Homo sapiens: one gene and its partners. The protein of the gene in region 1 purifies or fractionates together with the protein of each later gene. This does not show direct contact. Each region holds a gene or a part of one and is shown in the gene's direction. Other genes may lie near its edges.

What was found.
Region 2: the proteins of KCNS3 (region 1) and TAPT1 purify together in Homo sapiens (affinity purification with mass spectrometry; 2 studies listed by BioGRID and IntAct, with this or other methods). This does not show direct contact.
Region 3: the proteins of KCNS3 (region 1) and DNAJC18 purify together in Homo sapiens (affinity purification with mass spectrometry; 2 studies listed by BioGRID and IntAct, with this or other methods). This does not show direct contact.
Region 4: the proteins of KCNS3 (region 1) and LTAP1 purify together in Homo sapiens (affinity purification with mass spectrometry; 2 studies listed by BioGRID and IntAct, with this or other methods). This does not show direct contact.
Region 5: the proteins of KCNS3 (region 1) and ZDHHC9 purify together in Homo sapiens (affinity purification with mass spectrometry; 2 studies listed by BioGRID and IntAct, with this or other methods). This does not show direct contact.
Region 6: the proteins of KCNS3 (region 1) and PNPLA6 purify together in Homo sapiens (affinity purification with mass spectrometry; 2 studies listed by BioGRID and IntAct, with this or other methods). This does not show direct contact.
Region 7: the proteins of KCNS3 (region 1) and TAOK2 purify together in Homo sapiens (affinity purification with mass spectrometry; 2 studies listed by BioGRID and IntAct, with this or other methods). This does not show direct contact.

Annotation. Positions count from the first base shown.
Region 1 is NC_000002.12:17,877,323-17,881,811, forward strand, and holds the start of KCNS3 (delayed-rectifier potassium channel regulatory subunit KCNS3), read left to right. Parts: upstream 1-1,344; 5' UTR 1,345-1,484; intron 1,485-4,489. UniProt on the Homo sapiens protein: Potassium channel regulatory subunit that modulates the delayed rectifier potassium channel activity of KCNB1 by namely slowing down the deactivation and inactivation time constants.
Region 2 is NC_000004.12:16,184,718-16,188,718, reverse strand, and holds part of TAPT1 (transmembrane anterior posterior transformation protein 1 homolog), read left to right. Parts: intron 1-363; coding exon 364-499; intron 500-1,840; coding exon 1,841-1,938; intron 1,939-2,114; coding exon 2,115-2,184; intron 2,185-4,001. UniProt on the Homo sapiens protein: Plays a role in primary cilia formation. May act as a downstream effector of HOXC8 possibly by transducing or transmitting extracellular information required for axial skeletal patterning during development. May be involved in cartilage and bone development.
Region 3 is NC_000005.10:139,432,794-139,436,794, reverse strand, and holds part of DNAJC18 (dnaJ homolog subfamily C member 18), read left to right. Parts: intron 1-4,001.
Region 4 is NC_000001.11:154,210,563-154,214,563, reverse strand, and holds part of LTAP1 (protein C1orf43), read left to right. Parts: coding exon 1-107; intron 108-617; coding exon 618-671; intron 672-1,939; coding exon 1,940-2,106; intron 2,107-2,185; coding exon 2,186-2,244; coding exon of another isoform or gene 2,245-2,248; exon of another isoform or gene 2,249-3,103; intron 3,104-4,001. UniProt on the Homo sapiens protein: General regulator of phagocytosis. Required to uptake Gram negative bacterium by macrophages.
Region 5 is NC_000023.11:129,805,705-129,809,705, reverse strand, and holds part of ZDHHC9 (palmitoyltransferase ZDHHC9), read left to right. Parts: intron 1-3,219; coding exon 3,220-3,336; 3' UTR 3,337-4,001. UniProt on the Homo sapiens protein: Palmitoyltransferase that catalyzes the addition of palmitate onto various protein substrates, such as ADRB2, GSDMD, HRAS, NRAS and CGAS. The ZDHHC9-GOLGA7 complex is a palmitoyltransferase specific for HRAS and NRAS.
Region 6 is NC_000019.10:7,541,858-7,545,858, forward strand, and holds part of PNPLA6 (patatin-like phospholipase domain-containing protein 6), read left to right. Parts: intron 1-126; coding exon 127-210; intron 211-703; coding exon 704-813; intron 814-903; coding exon 904-1,071; intron 1,072-1,149; coding exon 1,150-1,227; intron 1,228-4,001. UniProt on the Homo sapiens protein: Phospholipase B that deacylates intracellular phosphatidylcholine (PtdCho), generating glycerophosphocholine (GroPtdCho). This deacylation occurs at both sn-2 and sn-1 positions of PtdCho.
Region 7 is NC_000016.10:29,980,032-29,984,032, forward strand, and holds part of TAOK2 (serine/threonine-protein kinase TAO2), read left to right. Parts: intron 1-1,629; coding exon 1,630-1,723; intron 1,724-1,827; coding exon 1,828-1,909; intron 1,910-2,702; coding exon 2,703-2,870; intron 2,871-3,019; coding exon of another isoform or gene 3,020-3,040; coding exon 3,041-3,301; intron 3,302-3,471; coding exon 3,472-3,633; intron 3,634-4,001. UniProt on the Homo sapiens protein: Serine/threonine-protein kinase involved in different processes such as membrane blebbing and apoptotic bodies formation DNA damage response and MAPK14/p38 MAPK stress-activated MAPK cascade.

The DNA of each region.
Region 1 (4,489 bases):
TCTTTTCCTCTGCCCTTCCTGCCTGCTGTTAGCCTCTCCTCTGGACCAAAACTCCCTTTAAGGGGAAAACCTCCTCTTTGAAGCCCACAAGATACGGTGAGGATTACTGCCTTTTTCTGATTTCCAACGTGGGTTTTTCATTAAGCAAAGAACAATTAGAAAACCCACACATAACATAGGGTATTCAGTAAGTTCAGGAAAGTGTTTTCCACCATCTCTTTGCCCCCATTCCCTCCCCAGCGCTTGGCTCAAGGTCTGGAGCTTGAATCTGCATCGTCTTCCTAGGTGCTTGCCTGAGGTGAGTGGTCAGCGGGTGCTGGCTTGGGGGCAGCTGGCAGGGCGTATGCTGCGGGTAGGAACCCAGGGAACACTGGGCGCCTTAGCTTGGAGCAGCTGGCTCCGAGGAATTGTTCCACGTCTGCACAACTTAAAAATCTGCAGTTTGGGGGCGGGAGGGGGAGCGCGGGGGTGGGTCCCGAAGCGTCCCATTTCTCCTCCTGGCTGTTAACTGAGCGCTCTCGCTCAGTGCAGCGAGGCCAGCGATGCCTTCTGGACCACACGCTGTCCTCGCCGAGGTCCTGGTTTGTTCCTCAACGTCGGCTGAAGGCATCGTCCCCTGACTTCCTCTTCCATTCGTCCTTCCGAAAGGGGACCCGACTGGTTCCTCTTCTACATATGAGGCGCATCTGCTTGGTGCAAATGTCCAAGCACCTCTTCTGACTCGGTGAGTGGAGGAATAAGACAAAGCATCTTGTTCTGCACTGTGCCTGAGTCTTCAGGCAGCGGGACCGATGGCAAACATTGGCAGGAACTGGAGCTATATGTACTCTCCTTCGCACTTTGTTTTAAAACAAGTTTGGGCCTCGCGATTTCCTGAGGAAATCCAGGCAAATTAGCAAAGTGTCGCTTGGGCCGCGACTTTAGAAAGGCGGTTGCCCCAGCCGCCGGGGCCGCGGGGGAGGTCATCTTTTTCCCGCAGGGCCACGGCGCTTCCGGCCCAGGAGGGCGCGCAGGTGGGAGGCGCGGGGCGCGCTCCTGGTCCCACCCGGACAGCGCCTGCCGCTCCGGGGTGACTCTGCACTTGGGCCTGGGCGGGGGCGCGCGGCCGGCAGGGCAGCATCTAGGTCTATGGGTCTGTCCGCCTGTCTGGCGGTCGGAGCCCCGCAGTCCTCAGCCGCCCGCGCCCTCGGCCCGGGGCGCCCGGCTGCGGGCCCGAAGCGAGGGGCTGGCGGAGCTGCGACCAATGGGGCGGCGGCCGAGCGGCGGGCCCCGCCCCGTCCCGTCCGGCCCCGCCCCGCCCGCAGCTCCCGGGAGCCTCGCTCTAGCGGGGCGGGACCGACGGACAGACCGGCCGACGCGGGCCACCCCGCTCTCCTCGCCGCCGCGGCGGCAGGCGCGGGGCCGCGCCGCGAGGCCTGATCCCTGCAGCGCGGGCAGGCGGCGTCGCAGAGCGGAGCTAGCTGGATGCGTCCGGACTCCTGCAGGTACCTGGCTGGCGTCCCCACCTCCCTGCGCGCTCCGGAGACTTCTCCGGGCGACCCTGCAACTTTACCGCGCCTTCCCCCACCTTTTGCTGCCCCAGTCTCCTGTGGTCCAGGTCGCGGGTGCACGACCCCGAGGGTCTACGGCCGCAGAGCACTTTCCGTCCTTCTGGGCGTCTGGCCCGCGGCGCCCGCATCCTCTGGTCCCCAGAGCCCGCCGTCGCTGGAGCCCTAAGGCTCCGCCTGTTGCGTGAACTGCGGGCTGTTGAAGCGGTGGCTGGGTTGATTTGAAAGCCTCGGGGAAGGTATTTAGGATCAGCTTTCGGGGAGTGGGGTGGGCTATGGTCAGGGGGAGGACCACCTGGAGGCGGGAGAATCGATGAGCCGAAGAAAGGCGGCACCTCGCGTAGGGGCATCCCCGGGGCGTTTCCTTGGCCGGGAAGCCGTTCCTTCCCTTCCTCGAGAGGAGGCGCTTTCCTGGCGCTTGTAAATGCTTCCCGGGCCGTCTGCTCCGCCTTCTTTGTCATTCCTCCCCTCCCCTTTGCCCTGCAGCTGTGCTAGGCGCCCCGCGACAGTTGCAGGGAAGAGCGAACCCAGGGCCCTTGCTCTCGTGCAGCGCTGCGCCCTGGGTGGGGACGGCGTGAGGCTTGCAGCGCAGGTGTGGAGTCACTTGCGGACTCTGCGTTTGGATCAGTGGCAGTGGTGGGGAAGGGTCACCCCGGGGTCAGGAACTCCTCTTTTTTTTTTCGCGCCTTTCTGGGTGGCTGCCCGACCTCCTGAGGCACCTTGGCTAGCAAGCGAGCCAGTCTTGCCGGCAGGGGCCGCGGCGAGCCTGGCTGGGCGCCTTTCGCATTGCAGGGCTTGTCCTGCACCCCCAACCCCGCTCTGTCCCTTCTCGTTCATTTGGAGAAAGGAGCACCTTTTGCATTCTTGATGTCTCCCCCCGGTTTTGTCTGGGGAGACCGAGCCGAAAGCTTCACTCGGGTGGCCCGCAGCAGGGGCAGAGGACAGCAAAGAGCTACCTCCACCTGCCAAAATGACCCAGGGGCCCTGGTTTGGTGCCAAGGCGTGAAGTGGGGGGAGGGGCGGTAGGTGTTCCTTACGTTCCTGCCGGAGAGTAGCTTTGTGGTTGGCCCGGAGCCTTCGTTCGGGTTTTTTGTCTTTCACCCTACCCTCTGAAAATACTGGAGCAGATGAGTACAAACAGTTCAGAAGCCTTTCCTGTTTCTTTCCCTGTATTTACTCAAGCGATTTGCGTAACCATTCACTTGGAACTGTGTAAGTCACTCCTAGTTGCCCCCCTTCTTAGACTATTTGCAAATACCTGCCCAGGTAAACAGGAAGCACGCACCTATCTCTTAGCTGAAGGCATATGCCCTCGTGCTTTGTCTTCCCTGCATATCTGGAGCCGAAGAGGTGGCTTTGATTCTCTAGCTGAACTTGGTGTAATGTGCAGGCTCCACTTCTTACCTGGGTGGTGACCTTCTTGAGGAGATTGACTCGTTCAGTATGCATTTCCAACCAGCCCGCCATGGGCCAGGCCCCAGGATGCACTCGGGGACAGACAGCAAATGGATGATATAATTTCTGCACCCAGTCTAGTCTGTTCTTTCTTTCTCACCAGCTTCCCTTCTTCTCTTGTTCTAATATTATGTTTGTCGTTTCTGAACTAGGAATTGTCAATATTGGGATCCGGAGAAGGTCATATGAAGGTGCCATAGAACTCTGAATCCAAAGCATGTTGTGAATATACTAAGGAGACTTGCGGGATCAGTATTAATTGAATCTTTTGTCTGACCCATAATTGCCTGAATAGAGCCATTGATGAATGCAGCTACGCTAAGGTTTTGCTGGTCAAGTGTATGAGGGCAAATTGGGAGGTCAGAAGCAGTCTTTGTTCTGTTCTGAAATATTATAATATTAAAAATCCAAAGCTCTGGAGCTTGAGTTTGCCAGCAAAGCACCAACTGAGTATCATCATCTTCTTTTAAGAAGGAAGGGGGAGAGTGGGAACTGCAGCTCCCTCCTGTCTTCAGTGGGTTTTGCCCTTCACTGTAATTCTTCACAGACGTGCATCCCTCTGTTCTACCACCCATCTCAATCTGCCCTGTGTCTGGCATTTGCCATTGGAATGTGTGTCAGCTTTGAGAGAGTAGGCACCACAGGGTTTTCCTCCTCCTTTTCCTTCTATTTTTTAATAGATAACATTTATTAGCTGCATACTATATATCAGATACTCTGCTAGGCACTTTTCCAGGCATTATCTCATTTAATTCCCATAACAACTGCATGAGGATGTGATGCTTGCTTTCTTCACTGCAGTATTGCTGTGGGAGCCAGCAGTAGATGGAACCCCCCAGGTGCATGTTGAGTCAGATGGGAGGCCAGTGGGAAATGGTGGGCCTGAGGTCTCACTAGGAGGAAGGACGACTCTGCAGGGTATGTTGAAGCAGAGAAGGTGGGTGTGTTTATTGACTCTGCTTATCAGGTGTCAGGAAAGTGCATCTTCCAGAGTGCCACCTGTGTGAAATACCCACAAAGAAACATCATAGAGAAGAGAATAGGATGTGGGGACCCAGTTTCCAGCTGTGATATCTATTTCTTTATGGCTCCTTGACTTGACATGTCATTTTGCTAATCTGGGTCTTGGTCTGTTTAGCTGCACTGACCTAGATCTCTAATATTTGTTGTTACGCTGTACTAGGCACTAAAAGCTAAAAGCTTTTACATGTATGAACTCACTTCATCCTGATGACAATCTTAGGATGGTAGGTTCTATTATCACCGTATTTTACAGGAGGAAAGAGAGACAAACTGAGTAACTTGTACAAGGTCACCCAGCCCGGAAAAGGTGAAGCTAGGATTCTATCCCTTGCAGTCTGACTGCAGAGCCACTGTGAGATTCAGTTTTCCTCATTTATTCCTACAGTTCCAACACTGTTCCCTGTGCTTAGTGGGATCTCGGACTACATTTGTTGAACAGTGACAGAGGGGGCTTACAGTTACCA
Region 2 (4,001 bases), on another chromosome or scaffold:
TCAATCTCCTGACCTCGTGATCCGCCCACCTCGGCCTCCCAAAGTGCTGGGATTACAGGCATGAGCCACCGTGCCCGGCCAGATGTGCCCACCCCTTTTATTTTTGCCACTATTTAAGACTTTCTTTGTTACAAACATAGCTAATTAGTCTAACTGAAATTCTATACATATTTTAGCCGTTACTATTTGTTAAAGAATAAAGAAATGTGAGTGAATAAGTAAACAAAGATCCTCACTCCTCTTTAGCTTGCCTTCTACTAGGATTTAAAACACAGATCTCCAGGATTTGAGCTATATCTCAATTTTAGTTATATATTTAAATGGAATATTAAGAAACATCTTACAAATAATTTTTTTTTTTAGGTAGCTGATCGTCTGTTTTCATCTTTTGGACAAGACATATTAGATGCTCTCTATTGGACAGCAACAGAGCCTAAAGAAAGAAAAAGAGCCCACATTGGGGTGATTCCTCACTTTTTCATGGCTGTTCTCTATGTCTGTATCCTTATAGACCTACTGGAAATTTCCGACAGTTAATGCATAGTCTACCTTATTTTATTTGGTTAGCCATTTTATAGATTTAAAGATATATAGATAATGTATGTATCCTGAAGATTAATGTGAAATATTTGTGTTCTGTTGAGAAATTGATTGTCATAATAACTAACTAATTTAAGAGCCTCATGTAGGCATTACTCTTTGAGCTGCTGGAAAACAGTTCTGTTTGCAGTGTAACTGATTATAAGGAAGACTTTTATAATAAAAAGGCAGTGTATCTTTATACATACCTGATATAGATCTATATAATTTTTCGTACTTATGTTAGAATTTTTCTTGAAGTTATCTTTAAATCCAGGAATTCTTTTTTATGGGCTTAAAATGCATGGAATTTATCTAAAAGTGTAATGTGAAATTGGTTGGGAGGAGTTTTGGTGGTTTTATGTGTTTGTGTATTCTTCCCTGGCTTTAAGCTTTTCTATTGGAGAGTAAGTGCTTTACTGTATAAGCAGTGTACATGTTTGTGTGTACCCCTACATATTTATACACACATTCCTGCTCTTAAGTTCCATGTGAAGTCAGGACTCATTCACAAGAATGAGTCACTTTTTTTTTTTTCTATCTCTGTAACAGTGACACTTGAAAGAAATTGGGTTAATGCTTGGAAAGTTAAAGAACCAAGTTGGAAGATACCTGTGAGGGTAAAATCTTGTTCCAGTTTTAATGGAGTAAAGCAGTTACCACTCTTAGATATAAATTAACTATTCTGTATGTAATACAAATATAATTCTGCAGTTTATGGATATCTTCAAAATGACATATGAAGAAGAATCTTAATTATCAGATATTTCCTACTGCCTTACATTCCACATTTCCTGAAGACTCAGGGAAGAAAATCACTTCCAGAATTATATTTTGTGCTTTCTTTTTTAGAATGCAAATTATTTTAATTCAGAATGTGTATTTCTTAGTCTCTTCTTTCAGTATTTACCATAATTTATTCCATTTACTTAACAAACTTTTTTGAGGGCCTATTTCCTGAGCACTGTGCCAAGTGCCAGAGATACAGAAAGAACAAAACAACCCTGTTGCAAAGGATTCATGGTCTAAATAAATGAATGCATAGAGGTACATTTCCACTTTTGTTCGTTTCATGTGGATTGCACATATCCTGTCAAACTTATATCAACTATAGCTAATAGGGAAATTATGAAGATAATACAATACTTATTAAGACAATTTAGAAAAGAAAGTCATCTTTATTATTCACTTTCAAAATTTTATAGTATTATCAGTAATAATATGAAAGCAAATTTAAGTTTTTTCCTTGACCTTCTATTAGTTTTGCATGCAATTCTTATAATGGTTCAAGCAACAACTCTCAATGTAGCTTTTAACTCACACAACAAGTCTTTGCTTACTATCATGATGTCTAATAATGTAAGTATGAGATTTATCTTACATTTTTGAAGTTATACAGGCATTTCAGCTGCAATACTCTGGGTGGGATAAAATTCTTTGTTCTATATGTTGTTCTCCCGGAAGTTTTATAAGTAGCAAGTCCAGTTTTTAAACTGTTATAATCATAAAGATGGTATTTCTGTTTACTATTTCAGTTTGTTGAAATTAAAGGAAGTGTTTTCAAGAAGTTTGAAAAGAACAATCTCTTTCAAATGTCAAATAGCGGTATGTACAATTAGATTCTACTTGAAGTTCTGTGCAGTATTATTTTGCAGTTCATTCTGAAATCCTAATGGCACATTTTCTCTGGGCCACTCTTCAGCTTAAACTGTACCTTCTCTTATGCTATCAACATCTTTACTAGGTTTTCTTATTTTTGGTTCCTGTAATCACAAGATGTTTGAGATAAAAAAATTAGAAACATTTGTGTAGCACCATACGCTACTTTGAGAAGCTTCTTAATAGTCTAGAAATTTCTCTGAAGTGGGTGGTATTTTTCCATTTTATAGATGTGAAAACTGAAACACAGAAAATAATTTGACTTCTCCACAGTCACATAGCTTCTAGGAGAACTATGTCTATAAATCTCAGATTGTCTCTAAGTCCTTAGCTTTTTTAGTTATTATTTAGTTATTATTTACTGCCTTCGTTCTAATCCTAAAAAGTGTGAAGGCACAAAATTTTTGTGCCTGGAGTCATTGTCTTACATAGTTTTTGAAAGCCAGAGCCACATTGCGTGGTGGATCATGGAGCCCCCAAGAACAGTCCCAGGGGCTCTGCCAGGGAGTATGCTCAGAGTCAAAAGTGTTTTCACAAGAATATGAAGACATTATTCATCTCTTCTGCCATGGTGACATTTGCACAAGTCATGAAGAAATGGTGGTGTTTTAGCATGAATCCAGACAGATGTACAATAGAGAGGACCCCTAAAGGAACCTGGCTTGATGATGTCCTTGAGGAAGGAGGGGTGTGTTATGGGGAGGCCTGCAGTCCTGTCGTAGATAAGAGCACACATGGCTCATCCAAAGCAGCGCTTGTCAGACTTTTTGGTCCTGAGAACCCTTTTACACACTTTAAAAAGTATGATGATCAGCCAGGCGCAGTGGCTAACGCCTGTAATCCCAGCACGTTGGGAGGCCGAGGCTGGTGGATCACCTGAGGTCAGGAGTTCAAGACCAGCCCGGCCAACATGGTAAAACCCCGTCTCTACTAAAAATACCAAAATTAGCTGGGTGTGGTGGCGGGTACCTGTAATCCTAGCTACTGGGGAGACTGAGGCAGGAGAATTGCTTGAACCTGGGAGGCGGAGGTTGCAGTGAGCCAAGATTGTACTAGAGCACTCCAGCCTGGGTGACTAGAGTGAAACGCTGTCTCAAAAAAAAAAAAAAATTACGATGATTCCAAAGGACTTTTATTTATATGGATTATGTCTCTCCCTATTCACCATATTCGAAATGAAAACTGAGAAATTTTAATAAAAATATTACATGCTTACAAAAATAACATTTCAATAAAAAAGATATTTTATAAAACAAAATTTAGTGAGAAGAGTTTCTCAACAAGTAATGCTGGAACAGTTGGATAAAGGTTAAAAAAAAAAGAACTTTGGCCCCTTCCCTGCCCAAGAAAATTAATTCATAGTGGTTCATAACCCTAAACATAAATGCTAAAGTTATAAAACTTCTAGAACAAAATATAGGAGAAAACATTCACAACCTTGGTCTAGGCAAACATTTTTGGAGACCACACAAAAAGTACTAAATGTAAAACAAAAGAGAGAAACTGGACTTCTTCAAAATTAAAATATGTGATCATAAAACTTAAAAAGTGAAAAGGCCAGCCACAGTACTAAGAGAAAAGATTTGAGATGCATATATCTGACGATAGATTTTGTTTGTTTGTTTTCTGAATATATAACAAACTATACCAATCAATAATGAAAGGACAATCTAGTTTTAAAATGGGGAAAAGGCTTGAACAGACATTTCACAAAAGAAAATCTATAAATGTCCAATAAGGTCATGAAAAGCTGCTCGGCATTA
Region 3 (4,001 bases), on another chromosome or scaffold:
GCTCTAAATGCTTATTTTTTTAAAAAAGACTCCAAATCAGTAACCTAATCTACCTTAAGGAACTAGACAGCCTGGACAATACAGTGAAACCCCCTCTCTTCCAAAAAATATATATATACAAAAATTAGCTTGGTATGATGGCACCAACCTGTAGTCCCAGCTACTTGAGAGGCTGAGGCAGGAGGATTGCTTGAACCCAGTAGGTTGAAGCTACAGTGAGTCATAATCGCACAGCAGAGCAAGACCCTGTCTCTCAAAAAAAAAAAAAAAAAAAAAAAAGAAAGAGGGATATCCCTACCAATCCAAATACTATGAACAATTGTGTGCCAACAAATTAGATAACCTAGATAAAATCAGCAAATGCCTAGAAAGACACAAATTACTGAAACTGACCCAAGAAAAATGGAGGCCAGGCATGGTGGGTCACACCTGTAATCCCAGAGCTTTGGGGGTGCTGAGGCAGGAGGATTGCTTGAGACCAGGAGTTTGAGACCAGCCTGGGCAACACAGCAATACATTATCTCTAAAAAAAGAAAAAAAAAATACTTGGGCATGGTGGCACATGCCTGTGGTCCCAGCTACTTTGGAGACTGAAGCAGGAGAATCACTTGAGCCTAGGAATCTGAGGTTACAGTAAGCTATGGTAGTGCCACTGCATTGCAGCTTCGGTGACAGAGACCTTATTTCCAAAAAAGAAAAAGAAAAAAAAAAGGAAAACCCAAGTAGACCTACAACAAATAAGGTGATTTAATTAACAATCAAAAAAATTCTAGCTGGACATGGTGACTCATGCCTGTAATCCCATTACTTTGGGAGGCTGAGGTGGGAGGATCACTTGAGCCCAGGAGTTCAAGACCAGCCTGGCCAACATGGCGAAACTTCATTAGTACAATAAAAAACAAACAAAAAGACCCCACAAAAATTAGCCGAGCATGGTGGTGCACACCTGCAGTTCCAGCTGCTCAGGAGGCTGAGGTAGGAGGATTGATGGAGCCAGGAAGGGCGAGGCTACAGTGAGCACCACTGCACTCTAGTCTGGGTGACAGAGGGAGACCTTGTCTGAAAAAAAAAAAAAAAAAAAAAAAAAAACTTCCAATGAAGAAAAGTCCAGGCCCAGCTGGCTTCATTCTTTGAGACCAGTATTAACTCTGTAACCAAAACCAGACAAAAATATCATAAGAAGTCTAAATTATCAACCAATATCCCTTATGGATATAGATTTTAAAATATTCAATAAAATACTAGTAAAACAAATACAGCAATGTAAAAAGTATTATATATTTTCACCAAGTGGGATTTATCCCAGTATTGCAGGATTGTTTAACACACACAAGTCAATCAATGTAACATACCATGTTAATAGAATAAAGGACAAAAATCACACGATCATTTCAATAGGTACAGAAAAAGCATTTAACAAAATCCAACACTCTTTTTTTTTTGAGACGGATTCTTGCTCTGTCACCCAGGCTGGAGTGCAATGCCACGATCTCGGCTCACTGCAACCCCTGCCTCCCAGGTTCAAGCGATTCTCTGGCCTCAGCTTCCTGAGTAGCTGTGACTACAGACGCGCACCACCATGCCTAGCTAATTTTTGTATTTTTAGTAGAGACGGGGTTTCACCATGTTGGCCAGGATGGTCTCGTGACCTTGTGATCTGCCCGCCTCGGCCTCCCAAAGTGCTGGGATTACAGGTGTGAGCCACTGCGCCCAGCCCCAACACTCTTTCATAATAAAAACACTTAACTAGGAATAGAAGGGAACTTCCTCGACCTGATAAAGTCCATCTACAGAAATCCACAGTTAACATCATACTTAAAGGTGAACAACTAGGTGTTTTCCCACCAAGATCAGGAACAAGACAAGTATGTCTGTTCACTCTTGCCACTCTGTTCAACATTGTACTAGAGGGTCAAGCCAGGGCATTTAAGCAAGAAAAAGAAATAAAAGCCATCCAAATTGGAAAGAAGAGTAAAACTACATCCACAGATGACATGATCTTGTAAATGGAAAATCCTAATGAATACACACACACACACACACACAAATACTGTTAGAACTAATAAACAAGTTGGACAAAGTTACAGGATATAAGATCAATATACAAAAATTATCATTTTTCTATATACTAGCAATGAACAATAAAAAAATGAAATTAAGAAAATATAGTTGAGGCTGGGTGTGGTGGCTCATGCCTGTAATTCAAAACTTTGGGAGGCTGAGATAGGAGGATCTCTTGAAGCTAGGAGTTCAAGACGAGCCTGAGCGACATAGCGAGGCCCTGTCTCTACTAAAAATAAAAATTTAGCCAGGTGTGGTGGCATGCACCCAAAATCCCAGCTACTCAGAAGGCTGAGGTAGGTGGATCCCTTGAGCCCAGGAGTTCGAGGCTGAGGTGAGCTATGATCACCCTACTGCAATCCAGCCTGGGTGACAAAGCAAGACCCTGTCTCTATATACAAATAAATAAATAAATAGTTTTAAAAAAGAGATACAGTTGGCCTTTGAACAACACAGGTTTGAGTGGCATCAGTTTGAACCATGGATTTTTATATGTCAATTTTAAAAGATAAATACATTGGAAAAATTTTTTAGATTTGCAACAATTTGAAAAAGTGGCTCACATCTGTAATCTCAGCACTTTAGGAGGCCAAGGCAGGAAGAATACTTGGGCTCAGAAGTTTGAGACCAGCCTGGGCAACACGGCAAAACTCCGTCTCTACTAAAAATACAAAACTAGTCAGGCGTGGTGGCGCACACCTGTAATCCCAGCTACTTGGGAGGCTGAGGCGGGAGAATTGTTTGAACCCAGAAGGCAGAGGTTGCAGTGAGCTGTGATTGTGCCATTGCACTCCAGCCTGGGCAACAAGAGCGAAACTCTGTCTCAAATAATAATCATCATCATCACCATCTCACAAACCATGGAGCATGGACATACCAAAAAATTAAGAAAATTATATGAATGCATAAAATATATCTAGATTCTAGTCTATTTTATCATTTACTATCATAAAATATACACAAATCTATTATAAAAAGTGAAAATCTATCAAAACATATGCTCACAAACACTTGAGACTACATGGTACCATTTGCATTTGAGAAAAATGTAAACATACAGGTGCAGTATTAATCACACCTGCATAAAATTAACAGTAGTACTGTACTACTGTAATAATTTTGTAGTTAGCTCCTGTTATTTTGCTGAGCCTCAAGTATTGGGAGTATCTGCTTAAAATGCCACATGATGCTAATCATCTCTTTGTGAGCAGTTTGTCTCTTGAGTAAATTATGTATAGCAGTAAAAAGTGATCTCTTGCAGTTCTCCAGTTTTGTTTTTTTTTTTTTTTGAGATGGAGTTTTGCTCTTGTCGCCCAAGCCGGAGTGCAGTGGCACGATCTTGGCTCACTGCAACCTCCACCTCCCAGGTTCAAGCGATTGTCCTGCCTCAGCCTCCCAAGTAGCTGGGATTACAGGCGCCCACCATCATGCCCAGCTAATTTTTGTATTTTTAGTAGAGATGGGGTTTCACCATGTTAGCCAGGCTGGTCTTAAACTCCTGGCCTTGTGATCCACCTGCACTTAATGCCAGCAGGTAAGAAAACATTGCACTTTTTGCAAAATACCTTTTCATCTCATATTGAAAATGAAGCTTTTATATGGGTGCAGGACTGCTATAAGAAAGGCATACAGTCCATGATGTGATTATTACTTATCGCATGCCTGAGCTCAAGGCTTCCACTCACCTCAGTCTCTCAAAGTGCTGGGATTACAGGTGTGAACCCTGCGGCCAGCCCTACCTCATCAACTTTTTAGTGCAGACAAAAGTGCCCTATTCTGGAAAAGAAATGTCACAAAGGACATTGTACTAGTAAGGATGAGAAGTGAGCATCAGGATATAAGGCAGGAAGGGATAGGCTAACTCTGCTATTTTGTGCAAATGCAGTTCAGTTTATGATGGGGGCTGCCATTATATATAAAGTTGCTAACCCCTGAGCCTT
Region 4 (4,001 bases), on another chromosome or scaffold:
GGAGATTGATATTCGACTCTCCAGGGTTCAGGATATCAAGTATGAGCCCCAGCTCCTTGCAGATGATGATGCTAGACTACTACAACTGGAAACCCAGGGAAATCAAAGTATGTGGCAAGCTCTTGGAATGCTTCAGTGAGGAGTCCCACAAGTCCAGAATTCCTTTTCTCTCAGAGTTGTCAAAAGCTGCTGGCAAAGCCTTAGTTATTCCTGTTATTGGATATATGTTAGATGCAGAGCCCATTTATTAGCTTGCTGGAGTTTGGGGAATTTTTTTTTTCTTTTTTGAGATGGAGTTTCACTCTTGTTGCCCAGGCTGGAGTGCAATGGTGCAGTCTCAGCTCACTGCAACCTCCACCCCCTTGTTCAAGCAATTCTTCTACCTCAGCCTCCTGAGTAGCTGGGATTACAGGCATGCGCCACCACGCCTGGCTAATTTTGTGTTTTTACTAGAGACGGGGTTTCTCCATGTTGGTCAGGCTGGTCTCAAACTCCTGACCTCAGGTGATCCACCCACCTCAGCCTCCCAAAGTGTTGGGATTACAGGCATGAGCCACCACGCCCAGCCTGGGGAATATTTTTAGGGTTATGCCTAACACCAGTCTTTTCCTCAACAGGTTGCTACAACTATCTGTATAGGATGAAAGCTCTGGATGCCATTCGTACCTCTGGTAAGGGCTACCTGACAGGGTCCATTCTAGGATCCTGAAAGCCCACCTAGGGAACAGAGTAATGAACCCACTTTGTATGTTAGGATTTGTCCTTTCTGCACATCCCTGGCTAGTAGGAAATTCTAGAGTTTTGAAAGTACTAGATTAGAGATTTTGCTGAAGGAAATGATATAAGCAGGTTATTCTCCAAAGAGTCTGGGTGTTTTGTTTTTTAAAGTTCTTCTCTTGAGACCTTTAGTTTCATGAAGTAGATGATAGTAATTTGCTTGTTTTTCCACAAAGGACAGGTGGCACCTGCTTTTTCACTAAGCCCAAGATAGATTGTTCTTGAATTTTTTCCATTCTGTCAACACTTGTCATATATGCTTTATCTCTATGAAAACAGTTTATATCTTAAACCTAGGATGGATGAGTAAGCAGGATGGTAAAATGTGTGATGACACTATCATGTGTCATAGATGTAGCTTACAACTGTGGTGTTACCACCAAATGACCACTCAGGCACAGCTTTATACCTTTGGTCTCAATCAGAATCTCCCTCTAACTCAACTTGCTCATTTCATTAGACCTATTTCTTTTTATTTTTGAGACGGAGTCTTGCTCTGTTGCCCAGGCTGGAGTGCAGTAGCACGATCTTGGCTCACCACAACCTCCACCTCCTGGGTTCAAGCGGTTCTCCTGCCTCAGCCTCCCGAGTAGCTGGGATTACAGGTACCTACCACCATGCCTGGTTAATTTTTGTATTTTTAGTAGGGACAGGTTTTCACCATGTTGGCCAGGCTGGTCTCAAACTCCTGACCTCAGGTGATCTGCCTGCCCCGGCCTCCCAAATTGCTGTAATTACAGGCGTGAGCCACTGCGCCCAGCTTCATTAGACCTACTTCTAAGTTTGGGGAATTAACTAGAAAGACTAAAGAATGGGGCAGGCGCAGTGGCTCATGCCTGTAATCCCAACGCTTTGGGAGGGCGAGGCAGACAGATCACAGGAGGCCAGGAGTTCAAGACCAACCTAGCCAACAAGGTGAAACCCTTTTGTATTTTTGTCTCTACTAAAAATACAAAAATAAGCCTGGCATGGTGGTGCACATCTGTAATCCCAGCTAATCAGGAGGCTGAGACTAGAGAATTGCTCAAACCTAGGAGGTGGAGGTTGCAGTGAGCCAAGATCACTGCCACTGCACTCCAGCCCGGGTGACAGAGCGAGACTCCATCTCAAAAAAAAAGACTAAAGAATGAGAAGAGATATCATTGTGCTGTTTTCTCCACAGAGATCCCATTTCATTCTGAAGGCCGGCATCCCCGTTCCTTAATGGGCAAGAATTTCCGCTCCTACCTGCTGGATCTGCGAAACACTAGTACGCCTTTCAAGGGTGTACGCAAAGCACTCATTGATACCCTTTTGGATGGCTATGAAACAGCCCGCTATGGGACAGGGGTAAGCCAGTTTTTTCTTCGGGGCACTAAAGAGATCCCTCAGACTGAGAGATCCTCACTCTTCCTTTCTCTTTCCTAAGGTCTTTGGCCAGAATGAGTACCTACGCTATCAGGAGGCCCTGAGTGAGCTGGCCACTGCGTGAGTTTGGAGGGGAACGTGTCAGAGGGAGCTGGTACAGTAGTGTTGGACTGTTGCCACAGTGCAGTGACCTTCATAAAGCATATAAACAAAATCCATGATACCATAAGAGTTGTCAGGTTCTAGACTATTAGATCAGTCTCTTACATTAGAAAGCAGATGCGGCCGGGCACAGTGGTTCACGCCTATAATCCCAGCACTTTGGGAGGCCGAGGCGGGAGGATCATCTGAGGTTGGGAATCCGAGACCAGCCTGACCAACATGGAGAAACCCCGTTCTCTACTAAAAATACAAAATTAGCCGGGCGTGGTGGCGCATGCCTGTAATCCTAGCTTCTGGGGAGGCTGAGGCAGGAGAATCTCTTGAACCCGGGAGGCGGAGGTTGCGGTGAGCCAAGATCGTGCCATTATACTCCAGCCTGGGCAACAAAAGTGAAACTCTGTCTCAAAAAAAAAAAAGAAGAAAAGAAAGCAGATGCAACTATACAAGCTAGTAAAAGAAGTTTTTACTAGCATTTTTCTTGTGTGCATTTTTCTTGTCTTTTGTTTAGCCCAATAAAATGTCAAAATTGGTGTAGCCTAGCAAAGGGAATAGTTTTTCAGCACACACAGGGATTCCTTCTCTTCAGAGTCTCAGCGTCCCTTTTGTGTCTTGGCCCAATAAAAGTAAGAATTAAATAACATTGGGCCGGGCGCGGTGGCTCACGCCTGTAATCCCAGCACTTTGGGAGGCCGAGGCAGGCGAATCATGAGGTCAAGAGATCAAGACCATCCTAGCCAACAAGGTGAAACCCTGTCTCTACTAAAAATACAAAAATTAGCTGGGCATGGTGGTGCGTGCCTGTAATCTCAGCTACTCGGGTGGCTGAGGCAGGAGAATCGCTTGACCCCAGGAGGCAGAGGTTGCAGTGAGCTGAGATCACGCCACTGCACTCCAGCCTGGTGACAGAGCAAGACTCCATCTCAAAAAAAAAAAAAAAAAAAAAAAAAAAAAAAGAATTAAATAACATCTATTTTTGGCCGGGCGCGGTGGCTCACGCCTATAATCCCAGCACTTTGGGAGGCCGAGGAGGGTGGATCACAAGGTCAGGAGTTCAAGACCAGCCTGGCCAACATGGTGAAACCTCGTCTTTACTGAAAATACAAAAATTAGCTGGGCATGCTGGCGGGCTCCTGTAATACCAGCTACTCGGGAGGCTGAGGCAGAAATCACTTGAACCCGGGAGGTGGAGGTTGCAATGAGCCGATATCATGCCATTGCACTTCAGCTGGGGTGACAAGAGCATGACTGTCTCAAAAAAAAAATAAAAATTAAAAATTAAAAAAATCTATTTTTACTACCACTTAAAGTATTAGTAACCATGTCTGAAACAAAGGCCATCGCTATAGAGTCAGCTGTTGAGCATTTGTGTCACAGGAGAGGATTCATGGCTTTTGTTTGGGAATGTTTTTAATACACACTAAACATAGTCTCGTATTTTCATGCAAATGTTAAAATCAAAGTTCTTGGCGAGAAAGGAAAGCCAATCTAGAGTAAAAACTTAGGCCGGGCGCAGTGGCTCACACCTGTAATCCCAACACTGGGAGGCCGAGGCAGGTGGATCATCTAAGGTCAGGAGTTCAAGACCAGCTTAACCAACATGGTGAAACCCCATCTCTACAAAAATACAAAAATTAGCCGGGCATGATGATGTGCGCACCTGTAATGCCAGCCACTCAGGAAGGTGAGGCAGGAGAATCGCTTGAACCTGGGAGGTG
Region 5 (4,001 bases), on another chromosome or scaffold:
AAAATGTATGATTCACTGGTCTAGAATATTCACAGAGTTGTACAATCATTATAACAATCAATTTTAGAGCATTTTCGTTACCCTTCCACCCTAAGAAACCCTGTAGCCATTAGCAGTCACTCTCCCTTTCCCCTGAACTTCCCCAGCCACACCCCTAGGCAACCACTAATCTACTTCCTTTTAGTACAGATTTCTCTCTTCTGGGTATTTCATGTAAATGAAATCATACAATATGTGGTCTTTTGTGACTGGCTTCTTTTACTTAGCATGTTTTCGAGGTTTGTCCATGTTGTACTATGTAGCAGTACTTCGTTCCTTTATATGGCCAAATGATATTCCATTATATGGATATACCACATTTCATTTATCCATTCATCAGTTGATGGACATTTGGATTGTTTCCACCATTTGATTATTATGAGTGATGCTGCTATGAACATTTGTGTACCAATTTTTGCATGGCCATATATTTTCATTTCTCTTGGCTATATACCTGGGAGTAAAATAGCTAGGTCACATGGTAGCTCTATGTTTAACCTTTAAGGTACTGCTGAACTGTTTTCCAAAGTGGCTGCACCATTTTATACCCCCACTAGCAGTGCCTGAGGGTTCCAGTTTCTCTACATCCTCTGCAACACTTATTATCTGACATTTTGAGTCTAGCCATCTTAGTGAATGTGAAGTGGTATCTCATTGTGGTTTTGATTTGCATTTCCCTGATGACTAATGATGTCGAATATCTTTTCATGTGCTTATTGGCCATTTTTATGTGCTCATTGGAGAAGTGTCTGTTCAGAGCTTTTGTCTATTTTTTAATTGGATTGTTTGTCTTTTTTATTGTTGAGTTGTAAGAGTTCTTTATGTAATCTGTATGCAAGTCTCTTACCAGATATACAATTTGCAAATATTTTCTCCTATTCCATGGGTTATCTTTTAATTTTCTTGATAGTGTCCTTTGGAGCACAAAATTTTTAAATTTTGATGTAGTCCAGTTTGTCTATTTTTTTCTTTTGTTGTTTGTACTTTTTGGTGTCATATCTGAGAAACTGTTGCCTAATCCAAAGTCATGAAGATTTATGCCCTTGTTTTCTTGTAAGAGCTGTACAGTTTTGGCTCTTACATTTAGGTTTTTGATCCATTTTGAGTTAATTTTTATATATGGTGTGAGGTAGAGGGTCCACATTCTTTCTTTTGCCTGTAGCTATCCAGTTGTCTCTGCACCATTTGTTGAAAGGACTATTCTTCTCCCATAGACTTGTCTTGGCACCCTTGTTGAAAATCTATAAATGTGAGAGTTCATTTCTGGACTTTCAGTTCTATTGTATTGCTCAATATGTCTGTTCTTATGCTAGTACCACGCTGTCTTGATTACTTTAGCATTGTAGTAAGTTTTGAAATCAGGAAATGTGAGTCCTCCAACTTTATACTTCTTTTTCATGATTGTTTTGGCTCTTCTGGGTGCCTTAAATTTCCGTATGAATCTTAGGATCAACTTGTCATTTATGAAAAGAAGCCAGCTGGAATTTTGATGGGGATTTCATTGAATCTATAGATCAATTTGGGGAAATATTGCCATCCTAACAAGATTAAATATTCTGAGCCATTTACATGGACTGTATTTTCACATATTTAGGTATGATTTGATTTCTTTCAACAACATTTTGTAGTTTTCAGAGTATAAGTTTTACACTTTTGTTACATTTATTCATAAATATTTGATTATTTTTCATGTTATTGTAAGTGAAATTGTTTTACTAATTTCATTTTTGGATTTTTCACTTGGAGTGTATTGAAAGACAATTGATTTTTATATATGGATCTTATACCCTAAAACCTTGCCAAGCTTGTTCATTAGTTCTTTTTTGTTTGTTTTTGTTTTTATTTTATGAGATGGAGTTTCGCTCTGTTGCCCAGGCTGGAGTGCGGCAGCGCCATCTTGGCTCACTGCAACCTCCACCTCCTGGGTTCAAGTGATTCTTCTGCCTCAGCCTCCCAAGTAGCTGGGATTACAGGTGCCCACCACCACACCGGCTAATTTTTGTGTTTTTAGTAGAGACCGGGTTTTGCCATGTTGGCCAGGCTGGTCTCAAACTCCTGACCTCAAGTGATCTACCCTCCTCGGCCTCCCAAAGTGCTGGAATTATAGGCACGAGCCACCGTACTCGGCCCTTGTTCATTAGTTCTAATAGATTTTTAGTAGTTTGAACTTTGTTTTAAAATAGAATCATACTTTTTTTTTTTTTTTTTTTTTCTGAGACGGAGTCTCGCTCTGTCGCCCAGGCCGGACTGCGGACTGCAGTGGCGCAATCTCGGCTCACTGCAAGCTCCGCTTCCCGGGTTCACGCCATTCTCCTGCCTCAGCCTCCCGAGTAGCTGGGACTACAGGCGCCCGCCACCGCGCCCGGCTAATGTTTTGTATTTTTAGTAGAGACGGGGTTTCACCTTGTTAGCCAGGATGGTCTCGATCTCCTGACCTCATGATCCACCCGCCTCGGCCTCCCAAAGTGCTGGGATTACAGGCGTGAGCCACCGCGCCCGGCCAGAATCATACTTTTAAGTGAATTCTTTTTATAAGGTAGATAATAGTTCTCTACTTTGCCTTTCCTAAATTTTGAATTTCCTTTTAAAGTACAGCAACCCGTGTTTATATATTATTGTTGTCATTTTTAATATTATTTTTTAAATGAGTCTGGACTCAAATTGTAACAATCTAGGTTAGTTATTCTTGGTTCAAAGTGGAGAAGGGTGGTATTTTAGAATCACTTGGGGACATTTTCAAACCACATATGACCAGCTGAAAATTTGGACACTTGGCCTTCTTTGGTTCAGAATCACTATTCTAATGAGCTGTGTGTTCGGGCAGAAACACGATTGAGGACCATTGGGTCAGGCCTTGTTACATAAGTATGTTATGACATTTGTTCTGAAGTGGGGAGGACCTGTGTAATTATTTGTGATTCCTATTATTATGACTATTAATAATAATAGAAAAATCTGTCCCCAACCAACAGTTAAGGATCAAACTCAAATAAACTTCAGTTGTGTTCTGCCGAGAAGACGATAGCTTGGTGTTGGTTCTGAGTTTGGTGTTGGTGGCTGCATATCTGTAGCATCAGTGTGATCAGGGGGCTGAGAGGAAGAGTTCAGTGTCTAAGGTTTATCTGCATTTGGATTTTGAGGAACAGCTTTGTGTTGAATCTCATATCTTTTCCTTCTCAGGCCCCCACAGAACACCTGAACTCAAATGAGATGCCGGAGGACAGCAGCACTCCCGAAGAGATGCCACCTCCAGAGCCCCCAGAGCCACCACAGGAGGCAGCTGAAGCTGAGAAGTAGCCTATCTATGGAAGAGACTTTTGTTTGTGTTTAATTAGGGCTATGAGAGATTTCAGGTGAGAAGTTAAACCTGAGACAGAGAGCAAGTAAGCTGTCCCTTTTAACTGTTTTTCTTTGGTCTTTAGTCACCCAGTTGCACACTGGCATTTTCTTGCTGCAAGCTTTTTTAAATTTCTGAACTCAAGGCAGTGGCAGAAGATGTCAGTCACCTCTGATAACTGGAAAAATGGGTCTCTTGGGCCCTGGCACTGGTTCTCCATGGCCTCAGCCACAGGGTCCCCTTGGACCCCCTCTCTTCCCTCCAGATCCCAGCCCTCCTGCTTGGGGTCACTGGTCTCATTCTGGGGCTAAAAGTTTTTGAGACTGGCTCAAATCCTCCCAAGCTGCTGCACGTGCTGAGTCCAGAGGCAGTCACAGAGACCTCTGGCCAGGGGATCCTAACTGGGTTCTTGGGGTCTTCAGGACTGAAGAGGAGGGAGAGTGGGGTCAGAAGATTCTCCTGGCCACCAAGTGCCAGCATTGCCCACAAATCCTTTTAGGAATGGGACAGGTACCTTCCACTTGTTGTATTTATTAGTGTAGCTTCTCCTTTGTCTCCCATCCACTCTGACACCTAAGCCCCACTCTTTTCCCATTAGATATATGTAAGTAGTTGTAGTAGAGAT
Region 6 (4,001 bases), on another chromosome or scaffold:
CGTCCCCAAGGGCCCATTGGAATTGCTTTAACTAGTTAATCAGTCGCCAGCATCTCCTTATCTCCCAACCTGCTAATCCTCCTAGTGGCTCTGAGGGGCAGGAGCCTGAACATGTGTCTCCCCCAGGGGACCCTGTGAAGCCCACATCCCTGGAAACCCCCTCGGCCCCTCTGCTGAGCCGCTGCGTCTCCATGCCAGGGGACATCTCAGGTTTGGAGCACTGGGTCTGCGGGGAGGGCCATGGAGCTTCCAGGTTTGAATCCAGGTCCACCGCCTGCCTGTCTTGATTGTTTTAATCTGCGAAATGGGAACACTGCCAGTACTTCCCCAGGCACTGTTTTGTAGATATTCATTGAGATAGTGCTTCTCCCACCTGTTAAGAGGGATTCAGAGGGAGAGTGCAGGCGTTGATTAGTCATGTCTGCTACAGCAGTGGCCCATGGCACATTGGTATCCATTGGTCTCAGACTGCAACTGTGGTTACTCTCATCTTTTTCTTTTCTTTTGAGACCTGTCTCCCAGGCTAGAGTGCAGTGGTGCTGTCATAGCTCACTGCAGCCTCGAACTCCTATGCTCAAGTGATCCTCCAGCCCCAGCCTCCCAAATAGCTGGAACTACAGGCCTGCACCACTACACCTGGCTCATTTTTTAAAAATCTTACTCTCATCTTTATGGTTTTTGTTGCCCCCCTGCCTGCCTGCAGGCTTGCAGGGTGGCCCCCGCTCCGACTTCGACATGGCCTATGAGCGTGGCCGGATCTCCGTGTCCCTGCAGGAAGAGGCCTCCGGGGGGTCCCTGGCAGCCCCCGCTCGGGTAAGGCTTGGGACCCTGCCCGGTGGTGGAGCCCGCAGGGGAAGGTGGCTGGGAGGGAGCATCAGGAGGTCACAAGCCTGCCCCACTCAGACCCCCACTCAGGAGCCTCGTGAGCAGCCGGCAGGCGCCTGTGAATACAGCTACTGTGAGGATGAGTCGGCCACTGGTGGCTGCCCTTTCGGGCCCTACCAGGGCCGCCAGACCAGCAGCATCTTCGAGGCAGCAAAGCAGGAGCTGGCCAAGCTGATGCGGATTGAGGTGGGCAGCCGAGGGGAGCTGGGCACAGGGCGCAAGGGAGGCCTGGCTGCGCCCATCTCAACCCCCCTACCTCCCCAGGACCCCTCCCTCCTGAACAGCAGAGTCTTGCTGCACCACGCCAAAGCTGGCACCATCATTGCCCGCCAGGGAGACCAGGTGAGGCTGACCCCTGACCTGTAACCATGCCACCTGAGATCATTCCCTATGACTTCTGTGACCTCTGATCCCTGCCCTTTGACTGTAAGACCAGCACCTTCTCCCATAGAAGCAGACCTCTCTCATCCTATCATTTCCAACCTCTAACCCTTGGGTCCTGTGACCCCCACCCCCTAACCCCACCCTATGTCCTCTGGACCTGTCAACCCTTCACCTGTGACCCCTGAACCTTTTGCCCTAGGACTCCAACTCCTAGATCTCTCCTGCCTGCCCTGGCTCTTCCTGTAATTCTGTTTTCTGAACTTCTGATCCTGCAGTATTCACTAACATGTCTGCTTCTCATGCTGACCGCTGCCAGGATAGGGGCTCAATAAATGGCTACAAATCGCCATCTGGCCTCGGAAGGCCATGAACCAGCCCTGGGTCGGGGTTTCAGGGCCTTGTGGCGGCACCCAGGATGTGTAGGAAAATGTATCCTACCATTCTGTCCACTGTCCATATGGGGAAACTGAGGCCCATCAAGGGTTAGTGACCCGACTACCAGCTGAAAGTCAGGAAGCCTCAGGGTAGGAGGAGGAGGAGGAAGAAGAAGAGGAAAGTTGAAACCCACACTCTGTCCCCAGAGTGTGGCAGATGATCTAGAAAGTTCTCTGCTTCCTCATCAGTGGAATGAGGTAATAAAGAAGAGATGCCTAGTTCGCAGAACCCCAGTAAGACTTCTTTTTTTTCTTTTTTTTTTTTTTTGAGACGGAGTCTCGCTCTGTCACCCAGGCTGGAGTGCTGCAGTGGCGTGACGGTGGCTCACTGCAAGCTCCGCCTCCCGGGTTCACGCCATTCTCCTGCCTCAGCCTCCCGAGTAGCTGGGACTACAGGCGCCTGCCACCATGCCCGGCTAATTTTTTGTATTTTTACTAGAGAGGGGGTTTCACTGTGTTAGCCAGGGTGGTCTCGATCTCCTGACCTCGTGATCCGCCCGCCTAGGCCTTCCAAAGTGCTGGGATTACAGGCGTGAGCCACTGCGCCCGGCCTTTTTTTTTTTGTTTTGAGACAGAGTCTTGCTGTTGTCACCCAGGCTGGAGTGCAGTGGCACAATCTCAGCTCACTGCAACCTCCGCCTCCTGGGTTCAAGCAATTCTCCTGCCTCAGCCTCCCGAGTAGCTGGGATTACAGGGTTGTGCCACCACGCCTGGCTACTTTTTATATTTTTAGTAGAGATGGGGTTTTGCCATGTTGGCCAGCCTTGTCTCAAACTCCTGACCTCAGGTGATCCGCCTGCCTCGGCCTCCCAAAGAGCTGGGATTACAGGCATGAACCACTGTGCCCAGCCTACTGAGACATTTTTGATTGTTAGGATTTCACAGGGTGCTGTTCCTGACACCTGATGGGTAGAGATCAGGGATGCTCAAATGTACAGAGCAGCAGGCCGGAACCATACAGTCCATTATCCACAGTGTGGGGTTTGCAAGAGTGACAAGTGGTCAGGGAGGGTGTTTAGCAGCAGCTTATAGGGAGCGGGGGCTTGAGGTGACAGTGAGCTGTCATAGGCACTGGGACCCCAGCTCTGCCCCAGGCTTGGGGGAGAGAAGCCTGGGGCAGGGTTGGGGTGGGGTGGGAGCTGTGGTCCCACTGTTAGCCGGCTGGAGTGTTGCTGTGTCACTTGACCCAGTGACTCTGCTGTCCCCTTGAACCACCCATGGCAGGGATGGGCTCTTTTCTGGAGAGGAAGTCAAGGCTTTTGCCAGCTGTTCTTAGAATAGCTGAGGAAGTAAGGTTACCCTGTGGCTTCTTTGGGGGCCCCTGGGCCCTGCTTATCTGGGAGACTGCTGGCCACAACCCAGCCCTGGCCTGTCAGTGTACCACGCTGGTCTGCAGCCCCTCAGAGCTTCTCTGCGTTGGCAGGACTTTTGTTAGGGACCCTGTGCTCTCCTGTGCTTCTCCTTGAAACTTTTTTTTTTTTTCGGAGACGGAGTCTTGCTCTGTCGCCCAGGCTGGAGCGCAGCGGTGCGATCTTGGCTCACTGCAACCTCTGCCTCCCGGATTCAAGTGATTCTCCCACCTCAGCCTCCCTCGAAGCTGGGACTACAGTCACGTGCCACCACGCCTGGCTAATTTTTGTAGTTGCACTAGAGATGGGGTTTCACCATGTCGGCCAGGCTGGTCTCAAACTCCTGGCCTCAAGTGATCCACTCGCCTCAGCCTCCCAAAGTGCTGGGATTACAGGCGTGATCCTCGGCACCTGGCCACAGTCTGGAAATTCTGTCTTAGAAGGTTCCAGCATGTGTTTATATCTCCTGGGACTGTGCCTCACCCAGGGGTCCCTGCAGTGTTTTGGCAGGTGGAGCTTCACTGGGTACCAGACAGGTTGGTGTGGTGGATAAAGAAGGAATCTCTCCATTTCTGGGCGGTTTCAGTTCCTTATTTATAAAGGGATGGAACAGGAAGGTTTCTAGCTGGTCAGGCTACCCAAAGAAGAAAGAAACGTGTTTACCCAGCATTTGCCCCATCTCGAACTGTGTGCTGCTGGCTGGACAAGAGGCAGGAAAATGGCTGGGCACGGTGGCTCACGCCTGTAATCCCAGCACCTTGGGAGGCCGAGGTGAGAGGATCACTTGAGGTCAGGAGTTCGAGACCATCCTGGCCAACATGGTGAAACCCCATTTCTACTAAAAATTCAAAAATTAGTCAGGCACGATGGCGGGCGCCTCTAGTCCCAGCTACTCGGGAGCCTGAGGCAGGAGAATCACTTGAACCCAGGAGACAGGTTGCAGTGAGCT
Region 7 (4,001 bases), on another chromosome or scaffold:
GAGAGAACAGCATGTGAGAGGCCTAGAGGTAAGTGCAGGCCTGGGGAACTGGGACTAGCTTCAGTTATTTGGAACCTAGCATGTAATGCAGAGAATATTGAAGGATAAGGCCAGAGAGTTAGGTCCAAGTGAGTTCCTAAGGCCTTGAAGCCATGCCAAGGTTCTCATCTCTGTCAGCCAGCACTATTGAAACAATTCTTTAATGAGGTAGGTAACCTTTATAAGGCTTCCAACACAATGCCAGGCACAAAACAGTTGCCTAAGAGTTGCTGTTAGTTTCTCTTATCAACAGCCTCCTGCAGTGATCTCTCCAGTCTCTTCTCCCTTCCAGTCTGTCTTAAGTACTGATGCCAGAGAGGTCTGCCTAAGCTCAGTGCTGTCATTTCACTCCCTGTTTGGAGCCATGAGTGGCCCCCTGTTGCCTTCAAGACTGAAGCCATCCCCATCCTTCCTCCCACCAACCTAGAGGCTTTGCTTCGTAAATGCTGGCCCTTTCCTTCATGGGCTCCACCCTCTGAGTGTGTCATGAACTCTTCCACTTCCTTGCCTTGGTTCGTATTGGGTCCTCTGCCCGAGGTCAGAGATTTGGACGAGCCCTTCTCCTCCATCTTCACAGTCTCCATTTACCATTAGATGCCAGGCCCAGACAGTTGATGAAAAATGTAAGAAACGGACCCAAGTATAAGAAAAAGCTAGATCTGTCCATTTTATTTCTAGTTTTTGGAAGAGATGTGGATACAGAGAAATATTACTCTACTATTGAAAAAAATATATATCAGTCTGATTATAAATGTCAACTCATACTAAGTCAATATCAGGGAAGCAGTGTGGAGAAGGATGTGGCAAACTGGAGATTGCTGTTTCCATAGAAAGAGGGCAGCTAATGCTTATCTCCAGACCATTGTTATGCAGTAATGTAGACTCCATTTCACCAGATTTAATTCTTAAGGAGAAACTGGAAACTTGTATTATTATTTGATTATTACTTTTGGCAGTTAATTTTAAAAATCACCGTTTAGGCCAAAACAACATGACATTTGTCTGGGCTACAAGGGACTCTTAGCGACTCTTAGCTTGCACTTACCTTTCTAATCTCAGGGCTTTTTACAAAGCCCTTCTCTGAATTCCCTGAAGATATGCTAGCTTGAAGGCTCACTGCATACTCTCAACTTCCCAGCCACTTCCCTGTTTCCCTCTTATACCAGTTAATACTTTGATGTTATTTTTTCAGTCCTATTTAATCTTTTAGACTGGAGGTTCCTTGAGGGTGGGGCCTAATTCTTGTTTTTATCTTCCCCATAGCAATTATCAAGTTATCTGCTCCCTTTGGCACCTAAGAAATATTAGTTGGGGTGATAACTGAATGGCTGTCCTTCTGCCTTCGTTACTGCTTTTGTGGATGTTATTTTCTTTGACCCCTATTCCACCCGTGTGCAGTGGAGAGGATGGGTGTTGTATTTTACAGAGGAAGGAATTAACTGAGACGCAACAGGATGATGGGAACTTCTCAAGGTCATGTGGCAAGGAAGTCAAGGAATTGGGGTTTGAACCCAAGTCGTCTCAGTTCCATTCCATTGTCCTCTACCCCCTGCCACCTCTCACCTTCTTCCCTTTCACCTTTTTCTGTAGCTGAACGGAAACCACCGCTCTTTAACATGAATGCGATGAGTGCCTTATACCACATTGCACAGAACGAATCCCCCGTGCTCCAGTCAGGACACTGGTGAGGACTGAGATTCCGAATCTGGGCCCAGGCGTTAGGCCATGGGGTATGGATGCCTGACTCATGCCTTCCCCACCCCTCTCCCACCCTCCTGTGACTTTCAGGTCTGAGTACTTCCGGAATTTTGTCGACTCCTGTCTTCAGAAAATCCCTCAAGACAGACCAACCTCAGAGGTTCTCCTGAAGGTGAGGGCCTGCTGGCCTAGCATTCTCCTGGAACTGTAGCTTGTTACAGCCACAAGAACCCCCAGGGAAATTAGTGGTTCCCAGTTCCTCCTCCACCAAGAGCTTCGTTGATGAATTCCCACCCCATCCCCAATGCCTAGTGGACTCTGTGTTTTACAAGATTTTGTCTACCAGACTGCCTTAATTTATTAAGTAATAAACTGTTTTCCCTTCTTTTATTAATCAAAGATTTATATAATTGCCAGCCAGAGCTTCTGGTCAGCATGTGATAACCAGGGTTGCCCCACTGATCTGATGTAATGCAAGCCAAAAGCCTGTGTAGCCTTATCATGGGTAAATGTATGATTTCCCTTAGGTGTTTTTTGAATTATCAAAAATGGAGGGGCCCCATTCCCTTCACAGACCCATGGGGGCCTGAGGAGCCGTAGTTGGAAACTTCAGATTATGTAGTTGGACCCACTTGTTTTATAATTGTAGGATACTGTATGAAGCCCAGAGGGGCCTCATGACATGTCCAAGGTCACATAGCCCTTTAGTAGAGGAGCTGGACGAGAATCCAGTTCTCCTGACTGTCCCTGCCTGTCAGCCATGCTTAGAGGAAGAAGAGTCTGTCTGGGGAGTAGGTACTGGGTGGTACAGAAAATTGTGAGAGAAGGGCTTGGGATAAGGCCAGCATCAACCCGTGGTGGGCGTGGGCCCCAGAAGAGTGCCTCAGGCCTGAGGGAATGCCAAGGGCTGTGGGTTGTGGGGGGAAGGGGAGTTGGCAGCAGACCTCAGTGCCCTCTTCCCCCAGCACCGCTTTGTGCTCCGGGAGCGGCCACCCACAGTCATCATGGACCTGATCCAGAGGACCAAGGATGCCGTGCGGGAGCTGGACAACCTGCAGTACCGCAAGATGAAGAAGATCCTGTTCCAAGAGGCACCCAACGGCCCTGGTGCCGAGGCCCCAGAGGAGGAAGAGGTGACCCAGCTTGCCCTAACACCCCTCTTTATACCCCATGTGTGCCTGCCCCCTGCAGTTGCTTGGCCCCTTCCCCAGCCCTACTCACACCACCATCTTCCCATGCTACCTCCATGCATATGCCCCAGGGCTTCCCCTTCCCTGTCCAGCAGCCTACGCCCTGTTCGCAGGAGGCCGAGCCCTACATGCACCGGGCCGGGACTCTGACCAGCCTCGAGAGTAGCCACTCAGTGCCCAGCATGTCCATCAGCGCCTCCAGCCAGAGCAGCTCCGTCAACAGCCTAGCAGATGCCTCAGACAACGAGGAAGAGGAGGAGGAGGAGGAGGAAGAGGAGGAGGAGGAAGAAGGCCCTGAAGCCCGGGAGATGGCCATGATGCAGGAGGGGGAGCACACAGTCACCTCTCACAGCTCCATTATCCACCGGCTGCCGGTACACAGCTCACCCTTGGGGGACCCGAGCCACCTGCTCTAGAACTGCCTGGGTCTTCGCCCTCCTTCCCTAAGTGCAGCACTCCTCTGAGTCTGATTGGCTGTCCTCAGGTAGCTCTCTTTGGACCCAGTGGCCTCTGAGCCTTGGGTGTTCCTTCTATCTCCCTCTAGGGCTCTGACAACCTATATGATGACCCCTACCAGCCAGAGATAACCCCCAGCCCTCTCCAGCCGCCTGCAGCCCCAGCTCCCACTTCCACCACCTCTTCCGCCCGCCGCCGGGCCTACTGCCGTAACCGAGACCACTTTGCCACCATCCGAACCGCCTCCCTGGTGAGTGTAGCCATCCTCACTCAGCCTGCTCGCTGTCTGTTTTTTAAGTCTTTTTAAGTCTAGAAATGATTTCCTCCCTGTGGCATGGGATTGAGTCTGGATTCTACCCTCATTTTCTGTTGCTGGCTCCTGCCTGCTCCCCTTAACCCTCCTGCTTCCCTCCTCTTCCCAGTGGACTGTTTTGGTCATATGGCCCAATCTGGGTGTTTCTAGCTTGGCAAACTCTTACTCCGTTTTTGTGGCCTGACTTAACTGACATCTCCTGGGTTGCCTTCCCAGGCTCCTCTGGTGAGTCAGATGCTTCACAGTTGTGTGCTGGGGAAGCCCAGTGCTGGGGGAGCCCTGTGCCTGTGGAGCCCTGTGCTGGG